Linked DNA regions of Homo sapiens. The protein of the gene in region 1 purifies or fractionates together with the protein of each later gene. This does not show direct contact. Each region holds a gene or a part of one and is shown in the gene's direction. Other genes may lie near its edges.

What was found.
Region 2: the proteins of DNAJC25 (region 1) and LSG1 purify together in Homo sapiens (affinity purification with mass spectrometry, with the first as the bait; one large-scale study listed by BioGRID). This does not show direct contact.

What each region holds. Positions count from the first base shown.
Region 1 is NC_000009.12:111,629,832-111,634,889, forward strand, and holds the start of DNAJC25 (dnaJ homolog subfamily C member 25 precursor), read left to right. Parts: upstream 1-1,502; 5' UTR 1,503-1,576; coding exon 1,577-1,912; intron 1,913-5,058. Other genes in the region: DNAJC25-GNG10 protein precursor, read left to right, coding at 1,577-1,912.
Region 2 is NC_000003.12:194,668,838-194,674,149, reverse strand, and holds the start of LSG1 (large subunit GTPase 1 homolog), read left to right. Parts: upstream 1-1,958; 5' UTR 1,959-1,987; coding exon 1,988-2,086; intron 2,087-4,014; coding exon 4,015-4,141; intron 4,142-5,312. UniProt on the Homo sapiens protein: Functions as a GTPase. May act by mediating the release of NMD3 from the 60S ribosomal subunit after export into the cytoplasm during the 60S ribosomal subunit maturation.

The sequences.
Region 1 (5,058 bases):
CCCTCCCATGTGTTTCCATTCATTTTATCTTTCTCATTATATATATATATAAGCATATATATAAGCCATATATAAGCATATATAAACATATATGAGATACAAATGTAAATAAGCATATATGATACACAAAATTGTTATTATATATATAACTTTTGTATCTCATTACATATACATGTATCTCTCTCATTACATATATAACTGTATATGTTGCTATATAGTCCCATGCAATATTTAGTGGGCTGAGGTGAAAAATAGACACATATATGTTATATATGTAATGACAGAGACATATATGTGTAATGAGATTATATATATTATATATGTAATGAGGGAGATATATGTAATGAGAGATATATATTTATTCAATGAGAAATACAAAATTATAATGTATATTCATTATGTATTATAAGTATATAATGCTATGTATCAGTATTTGATTTCACTTTATTAAAAGAGTTGATTATATCTGAACGTTTATTTATTTGTTACTGACTGTCATCCTCCATCAGAATATATGCTCTCTGAAGTTGAGCTTCTTGTTTACTTTGCTCACCACTGTATCCCCAGTGCCTAAGTAACAGTGCCCGGCTCAGAGTAGAGACTCAATAAACATTTACCAGATGAATGATAGAAACAGATTTTTTGAGGCAAAGTTTTTCATGTTGCCATATAGTCCCATGCAATATTTTGGACATACTTATACTAAAAAATTATTATCTGAAATTCAAATGTAGGCCGGGCACGGTGGCTCACGCCTGTAATCCTAGCATTTTGGAAGGATCGCTTGATCCTTCCAGCAGGTTGTCCCGGGAACGCGCAGCCCAAGGTGGACGCACAGACCCGCGTACAGAGATTTTTTATTGTCATGACTGGGGGTGGTGGCACTACTGGCATTTAGTGTGGAGAGGCCAGATATGCTGCTAAACATCTTACAATGCAAAGGGCAGCCCCTCAAAGGCAAAGAATTATCTGGTCTAAAATGTCAATAGCGTGGAGGCTGAGAAAAACTGAACTAGATGGCTATGAACTTTCAGGGTCCCTACCTAGTACACAGGCAGCGCCTAGAATTGCTAAGTTCATCTTCCGTTTGGAAAGGCAGCATGGGGTTAGTGAGAGGAAGGCGCCCGGGGCTGGTGGCTGGCTTTAAAGGCCTACGTGCAAATCTTCTTGACGCTGATAACGGGATGCGAGAGAGCCAGGTAGGTTACCTATTGCAGCAGGTCAAGTGATGATGTCGAAAAGGATGCGTGTGCCGGACACTGTGGAAGGTAAAGCGCTCCGCACAGCCCGCCTAAGTGCGCCCGGGACAGAGCCATCCCCCAGGTGCTACCAAACAAATCCTCCAGCTGCTGGTACGGGGAAGGTGTTCAGTGACACACCGGAAGCAGCCTAGTGGCTGAGGCGTCCTTCTCCCTACCAACGGGTTGCGAAGGAAGTAGTTGCTGTAGCCGCGCCCTGTGCGCCTGCGCGGAGGCGTCGGCTGCTGACGTGTAGCTGGGGCCAGACGGGACTAGCCGGGCGCGCGGCTGAGTGCTGCAGAATCGCTGGGGTGGCAGAGCCGCCAGCGAGGCTGGGGATGGGGGCGCCGCTGCTCTCTCCCGGCTGGGGAGCCGGGGCTGCCGGCCGGCGCTGGTGGATGCTGCTGGCGCCCCTGCTGCCGGCGCTGCTGCTGGTGCGGCCCGCGGGGGCCCTGGTGGAGGGGCTCTACTGCGGCACGCGGGACTGCTACGAGGTGCTGGGCGTGAGCCGCTCGGCGGGCAAGGCGGAGATCGCGCGGGCCTACCGCCAGCTGGCCCGGCGCTACCACCCTGACCGCTACCGGCCCCAGCCCGGAGACGAGGGCCCCGGGCGGACGCCGCAGAGCGCCGAGGAGGCTTTCCTGCTGGTGGCAACCGCCTACGAGACACTCAAGGTGAGGCCTGCGGGCGTGGAGGGGCTTCGAAGACTGGCCGCGGGAAGCCCACGGCGCCTTCCGACCCCGGTCCGCGGAGCGTGGGCCTCTGTGACCCCGAAACTGAGCACAGCCACCACCGCGACCTTTAAGATACTCACGTTTCCCACGTGGCCCTGTGAAAGAGCCGAGTCGGCCCCACGGGGCCTTGGGGGGCACAGCTAGCCTCCTTGCCCTCTTCCTTTTTGTGACATTGTTATGCAAAACTTTGGCCATCTTACGATTTCGTGAAAATATTTTAATAACGTGCATTTCACATTCGAAAAGCAGGGTGATCATTATTAGTAGGATCTGGGGTAGCCCACAACAGGGAAAGTCTCGAATATCAAGTGACAACTGTGATCGCATCAGTTTGATATGACAGAAAATTGGTTTCTGGAAATAGTGTTAATGGTGACGCTTAGTTTGGGTTTAAGGAACTAAGAAAACACTGAGAAGAACAATGAACACCAGTCAAAAGGCTGGATGTGAGTCTTTGCTGTGACACCCCTGTATGACCTTGGATAGTGACTTATTATGTTGAAATAGCTGTTTCTTCATATGCAAAATTAAGGCCATGATACCTCCTCTCAGAGTTATTATGGGGATTAAATGATAAGTGTGCGAACCGCCCCCCTTTCCATAGGATCCATAAATAGGTGCTTAATGACTTGGGTACAAAACTCTGAGAATTTCTAGTAGGAAATATTTTGTGAATATGTATTTGTATTTCATTTGACAGGTTTTATTGAGTCTTGTGGGGATGAGAGATTTAGCCCGATGCTGTTTTCTTCTACTACTGCAAAAAATCAAACCATCTAGGACATCACGAAGTATAAATCGTACTTGATGGTGGTATTACTGCTTGAAGGGCCCCATCATACTAATGCGTCAGCGATTGTAGTTGTAAAGTATTTCTTTTCTAGCCTTTTTTTTTTTTTCCCGAGGCAAAATTTTCTATGTTGCCAGGTAGCCTGCTTTTAATGATTGTACTTTGAGTGGATATAATTTTACCTTGGATTGTTCCTCCAGATTGTTTTTCCAGAGCTGAAAATAGTCAAGGAGCTAACAACTTTATTGATGCCTTCCAGAGCAGTTTGGATAATTTGGAGTCATAAAATGAGTGGTGGAGGGGCGGGCCCTGAACTAGGTAAACTAGGTGAATTGAACTAGGTAAAATTTAATTTACCTAGTTCATTAAATTCTCACTAGCGTTAGTGAGATTGTAATTTTTATTGGCAGTTAACTGAGGGATGGCTGGGGAACTGGGAAAGTGCTGAGGCCCCAAAGGGCTTTGTTGCCGATTATGTAAAAAGTGATGGAAAAAAGACTCCAGAAAAAATAGGAAAGAACTCTCCATCCAAGGCACTTCAGCATATGAAGCTCCAACCTCTGTTCCTTGTAGTCAGCCAGAAGCCCTGCTGGTGCGTGAGGGAGCCCTGGACCAGTGTGTGAAATCATAATGGGATTTACTAGGGATAGTAAAATTGATAGGATTAGGGATGTTAATCATGTTAATTTGTTTCAGGCGCGAGATGGTAATAAGGTTGTGGTGCTTGAATTTAGGTTGAGTGTCAGGAATGCAGTAGTTGTTAGGATGATATAGATAATTAGGTTAAAGATAGTGATATTTGGATTGTATATCAGTTATCCCATTATGATTTCACACACTGCTTTATAAACTAAGACCATGCAATAGTATTTAGTGTGTTTGACTTTTGGGGATTTAGGGAGTTTATGGACTTTGGAAGTTAAACAAGTGGACGCTTACCCTCTGTGTCAACCCATCTTCTGGAAGATGGAGAACTTCCAGAAGAGAGGGCAGCAGAAACACTGCCAGCTGTTGCCTTCTGCTGGGCTTTGTAGGAGTGGAGATGAGTAGTTTTGGCATGAGAATGGTGAGCATGTTGGTAAGAACTTTGAAAACAAGTGCCATGATTAGAGGGTAGAAATAGTGATGGTAGAGATTCCTGCTGGGAGGGCCACCAGGAGAGACTGATCAGTGCCCCCATCCCGGAACTGATCTGATGAATCTATATGGTTGCCTCTAAAGGTTTCTACCCCTAAAGTTTACCACTCATTGTCAGCTAATGAAAAGCTAGATAAAATAAGTGATCCACTCAAGATCAAGGAACGTTTAGGCAGTTAAAGACCAGTATGTCTGGAGTAGGTAACACTTGTACTCTTGACTCTGACGGGTTTGTGATAGCTACAAATATCTTGGAACAGGGGAGTGGAAGTGGAGTTGTACTGGTGGAGGAGGGAATGAGGGGAGTGTTCTGTAGCTCCCCCAGAACGCCCACTGTCTTACTGTGGAAATTATCTGTGAGACAAAAGGGATGTCTGGAGATATTTTGGACCCTGGAAAATCAGACCCAGCAGAACTCTTTGAAAACTTGCATTTTAAATTTATGGAGATGAACATATATTCATCTTCCAAGTGGAGCACCTCCAAGAACTATTTACCTCATTGAAGATGCTCTCTCTTGGAATAAGGATAAGGACTTTGACTTGCTGTCTGTGGGAGCAATTATTACAGGGTGGTCTGCTTTAACTTCTGTCATAACGGAGAATTGTGAGGAAGTTGCCAAAGAATATGTTTTCTGGGTAATGCAAGGTTTTAATGAACTGAGGTCATCCAATTTGGAGGGCTTCAGCCTTGCACATTATCCGTTGAGGCAATGGAGATGTAATGGCTGTTTGTTTGGATTGTATCCTCCGGCTGTAAAAAGGGTTTGTGAAGGATAAAAGGTCCAGGTGGCGTTTGCTAAGAGCAGGTCAGATAGAATAGTGGGAGAAGCTGAGTTCCAGTGGCTCTGGAATAAAAACGGGATGCAGAAGCCTGTATCTGAATGTTGATAATAAATGCATCACCAAAATGGAAACTATAATTATGTAAAACATCAGTGGATTTATGATTCTGAGGTGGTTTTGGTCAAATAAATGCCCTTTTGAGGGGGTTTTGTTTTTTTTTTTAGGTGGTGGTGGTTAAAAAATAAGTACACTAACATGACTTAAATACAGTTGGTAAGACAAGAAGATATGACATTTGATCATCACTATTTTAGCAAAAAGATTTTACCTGTGCATGGAGAAATGGAGGAAAACCAAAAAAAAAGAAGTGTGGG
Region 2 (5,312 bases), on another chromosome or scaffold:
AGATTATGTGTAGGATTTTAAAGATACACTGTTTCTAAATTGAGAAATGGGAGAAATGATGTTCTGATGCATTCCTTTGCTCATCTGTGAGCACTGCCTTCTCAAAGCGTTGCCAACTGCTTCACAGCTTGCCAGCAGTCCCTTGGGCATTTCCCAAAACTCACTTCAATTCAGTAAGAGGGGTAAGGTGCAGCACACAGAAACCCTGGCAGGGAATTCAGAATGGGTGGGAGTCTGGACCCAGTTTCGCCTGATGCTAACTTGCTATGACTGACCTTTAGCCAGTCCACTTCTGTGTCTTCATTTGCACCAGGAAAGAGTGGACTACGCTTGCTACTCAAAGTGTGACCCAAGGACCAGTACTATGGGTATCACCTGGAAGCTTGTTAGAGCCACAGGCCTCACCCCAGAGCTTATGAATCAGAATCTGCATGTTAACAAGATTCCCAGGGGATTTATATGCACATTAAAGTGTGAAAAGCCCTAGGTTAAACAGATTCTTGATCCTATTTATTTCTTTTTGGCTGTTGTTTTAATTGACAACTAAAAATTGTTTATTACTTACGTTGTACCGCATAATGTTTTGATATATGTGTACATTGTGGAATGGCTAAATCAAGCTATGCTAGGTAATATATGCATTACCTCGATCCTATGATTTAAAAATACATGTTTGGCCAGGCGCAGTGGCTCATACCTGTAATCCTAGCACTTTGGGAGGCCGAGGCGGGCGATCACCTGAGGTCAGGAGTTCGAGACCAGCCTGGCCAAAATAGTCAAACCCTGTCTCTACTAAAAATACAAAAATTAGCTGGGTGCGGTGGCACGTGTCTGTAATTCCCGCTACTCGGGAGGCTAAGGCAGGAGAATCACTTGAACCCGGGAAGCAGAGGTTGCAGTGAGCCGAGATCATGCCTTTGCACTCCACCTGGGGGACAGCGAGACTCTGTCTCAAAAGATAAAAATAAATAAATAATACATGTTAACAACCCTCATTCCCCACTCTCCCCAGGGGTGTACAGGCTAGTGACAAGACTTGGGTTTATTCCTGACACTGCACGCACTCAATCTACGACTTGCTCAAGCTGCTTCCTCTCTCCAAGCATCAAAACAAAGAGATGGTTCTCTGGATCAATGAGAATGTAGTTCACCAGCCACTCTAAGCTGACTTTCTATTATTCCCATTATAGGGAAATCAAACATTCAAGTGAGGAACAAAAGCCCAGGCCTCTAGGAGTGGAGCTGGCTCACTGTTTTCACTTTCATTTTAATTATTTTTAAAAAGGGTAATGAAAATATAATTAGAACTGTTTAAACATTTTTTTTTTCTTTGAAATAAAGCGTAAGTCACTTCCTGTTGGCTTTTCCTACAACCTTGCCAAGCTCTGGAAATACTATTCAGCCTCTCATTCCAAATTCACATCCAGGCGAAGACTTTTCTCCCCAGTTCGCAGCTGGGGTCGGCTAGATAAACAAAAAGTTAGTTGCTGTGCTGGACCTCGGAGAGACCACACCTCGGGACGCCAGCAGAAAACCAGCGCTGGGAAACGCCCCCGTCCCAGCGCCACCGAAACACTCTTCCTCCGAGTCTCCGCGTCCTCCTGACGGAAGCAGCGGAAGGCGGAGCTAGTGCCGCGAATAGGAACCGCCATGTTTCCGACGTGCTCTAGTTTCTCGCCGGACGCTAAAGACCGACGCACAAATTAAGAATGGACCATTCTTTTAACTCAGTCATTTATCCAAACTCGAGACATTCGCCAGGAAATCTATCGAAAATTTCCCAGAACCATTTTTTCACTTATATTCTATAATACTGGTAAAATCGAGACGTAAAAGGAGAACTTGAGAACAAGTCATTCTGCTTTCCCCTCTCAAGTTTGAGCCTGAACTACTTGGGCTCGCTTATCGTCACTTCCGGGGATCGAACTGTGAATCCCGGAAACTGCACGCGCCGAGCCGGGAAGCTTCGTCCAGCGGTCGTGTTGCCATGGGCCGGAGGAGAGCCCCGGCCGGTGGGTCGCTGGGACGGGCCCTTATGCGCCATCAGACTCAGCGGAGCCGAAGCCATCGTCACACTGACTCCTGGGTAAGACAGACCATGTCATCTTTCTTATCTTTTCTGTCTAGCCTGAGTGCTGCAAAATTCGGGGTCAAAAGTCAGATAAGTTTTGCAGGAGGGACGCCTCAGCCGGGTTTTGAAGGATGAGTTGGAGTTTCTGCCAAGCTGAGTAGCAGGCCCTCCTCCTGGCAAGGCCCAGAACACAAAGGTAGGAGAAGCTTGAAAGAAGAGTTAGTGTGGTGATGAGGCGTGGAGTGAGAATCTGAAGAGTCTTCAATGCCAGGTCTTGAGTACGTTTGGGTTTTGCCCTAGAAGCCACTGAAGTGCTTGGAACTTCCAGAGCAGGAAAAAGACAAAACGTATTTTTGTATTGATTTGTTCAAAGAATGGATCCTCCAGAAGCGGTTGGTTACTGCCAGAAATATAAAATAATTCAGATCCTTGCCTCATCCTTGCGAAGCACCCCCTAGTGGTTTAGCTCAAAGATAAATCATTGATTTTTCAGGTGTGACAAGACCTAATATTTTACTAGGTTATAGAAGGATCTTTAAAAAAATGAATGAAGTGATTTGGCTTGTGTTCATCATTCTAGTCGTTATTTTCACCATTCATTCCCCCGGGAATGAATGAGAACATGTTGAGTGCTAAGATCGTGTGCTAAATTTAGTTAAATATGTCCCTGGAGCTAAGTAAGCGTGTGCCACTGTCACACCAGCTGACTTTCATCCATATAGTCTGCAGAGTAAACAGCATGGAGTGCTTATCAGTATTCATCAGGTCAGAGTTACTCTGGACATTAGATTACTGGTAATTTTTATTAGCTTTGAAGCAACTTGTTACTAATGAAGCCTTTTAGGAAACTGTGGGAAGATTGAACATGAATGGTAAAGAATTGGATCCTAATTCCTTATTTTTGCTGATTCTATGCCCACTTAAACTTTTGGCCCTTAATATTTATTTAGGAAATTCATTCATCATTCAGTTATTCATTTTTAGAGACAGGGTCACACTCTGTCACCCAGGCTAGAGTGCCAGTGGTGTGATCATAACTCACCAATTCACTACAGTCTCAAACTTCTGGGCACAAATAATCCCCCTGCCTCAGTCTCTTGAGTAGCTGGCATTACAGGTGCACACCATCAGGCCTGGTTGTTTGGTTTTGTTTGTTTGTTTTGGAGAGACAGGGTCTTGCTGTGTTGCCCAAGCTGATCACAAACTCCTGGCCTCAAGCAATCCTCCTGCCTTAGCCTCTTGAGGAGCTGGGGTTACAGGCACAAACCACCACGCCTGGCAATTTTTTTTTATTTGTATCTATACTAAGTATATAGCTTAGGGTGATGGTTATCAAACTCTGGGTTGTGTCTGGAAGTCAATTTAGTGGTCTGCAGCTAGCTGTTTTGTTTTGTTTTTATTTTTTCCCCAGCAAGATAGAGAAATATCAGAATGTTGCATGTAATAGGGTGTGGTTTCAGTATTCTTCTATTGCCATTTTACTGTACTGAACGGTACTTGAATGCTTGTATCATTATATGTACATACACCTTTGGGTCACTATGTAAAATGTATTTCTTATTGTGGGATTATATCAAATAAAGTTTTGACTAATTTTGACTAGCACAGTCAGACAATCTGGGTTCAAGTTCTACCTGTGCCATTTAGATTTTGACTATAGGCAAGTTATTTTATCTGCTGAAGCCTTAGTTTCATCATCAGTAAAATGGAAATACAGTAAAATTCACCTCAAAAGATTTTGAAAATTAATGAAATGGTGAAAGGGAACTGCCTATTGTGAGGTAAGAACGTGTTCCTTTAAACATTAACTATAAGTAGTATTGATTCTAAAGGGACTACAACCACCCTCAAGACCATAGACTAGTTGCAAGGAATTTTAGAGCTTATTGGATGCCAAGAGCAGAAGAGAGCAGCTGTATTTATCACCCTGTGTTTTTTCATAGTTGCACACAAGTGAACTCAATGATGGCTATGATTGGGGTCGTCTTAATCTTCAGTCAGTGACTGAACAGAGCTCCCTTGATGACTTCCTTGCTACTGCAGAACTTGCAGGAACAGAGTTTGTAGCTGGTAAGTTGTTTATTGCTGAGTGCAGGTGAGACTGTCACATTTCCATCTGGGGCTGAGGTTTTTTTTGTTTTTTGTTTTGAGATGGAGTCTCGCTCTGTCACCCAGGCTGAAGTGCAGTGGCGTGATATCAGCTCACTGCAGCTCCGCCTCCTGGGTTCAAGCAATTCACCTGCCTCAGCCTCCCAAGTAGCTAGGACTACAGGCACGCACTGCCACGCCTGGCTAATTTTTGTATTTCTAGTAGAGATGGGGTTTCACCATGTTGGCCAGGATGTTCTTGATCTCCTGACCTCGTGATTCGCCTTCCTTGGCCTCCCAAAGTGCTGGGATTACAGGTGTGAGCCACCGTGCCCGCCCTGAGTCTTGAACAATGAGTAGATGTTCAAAGGACAGATGAGATAAGACCTTTTACACAGACAGGCAGAGGACTCGAGCCCAGATGTGAAGCAGCAGCCAACTTTGTTCAGAAAATGGCTAGAAGTTTGGCTTTGCTGGTGCAGGGGGCGGGATGTGATGAGCACAGGTGCTGAGGAGGTGGGCAAGGGCCAGATTCTGGAGAGAACAAAGGTTTAAGGCTTTACAGGGCTTTAAGCACGTGTACAACATGATTTCAGATTTCATTGTTTAGTGTTTTTTGGGGGGATGTGTGGGTTCCAGCTTTAATGAGCTACACAATTGGCAACTAAAAATTGTATATAGTTATAGTATATAGTGTGACGTTTGGTTATATGTATATATTGTGAAATGATTACTAAAATCAAGTAATTAACGTATCCATCACCTCACATTGTTTTTTTGTGTGTGCGGTGAGAACAAGATATATACTGTCTTAGCAAATTTCATATTATTAACTAATAAATGTGTTATTATTAACTATGGACACCAGGCTGTACATTAGACCTCCAGAACTTATTCATCCTGCCTCAGTAAAACTTTACCGTTTGACCAGTATCCTCCTATTTGCCCCACTCCCTAATCTCTGGTAACCACCATTTTCTCTCTGCTTCTATGAGCTCGGCTTTATTCCACGTATAAGTGAGATCATGTGGTATTTGTCTTTCTGTGCCTGGGTTATTTCTCATAGCAGAGTGGTTCATTCATATTGTCACAAGTGTCAACATTTCCCTCTTTTGTAATGCTGAATAGTATTCCATTGTATACTACATATACC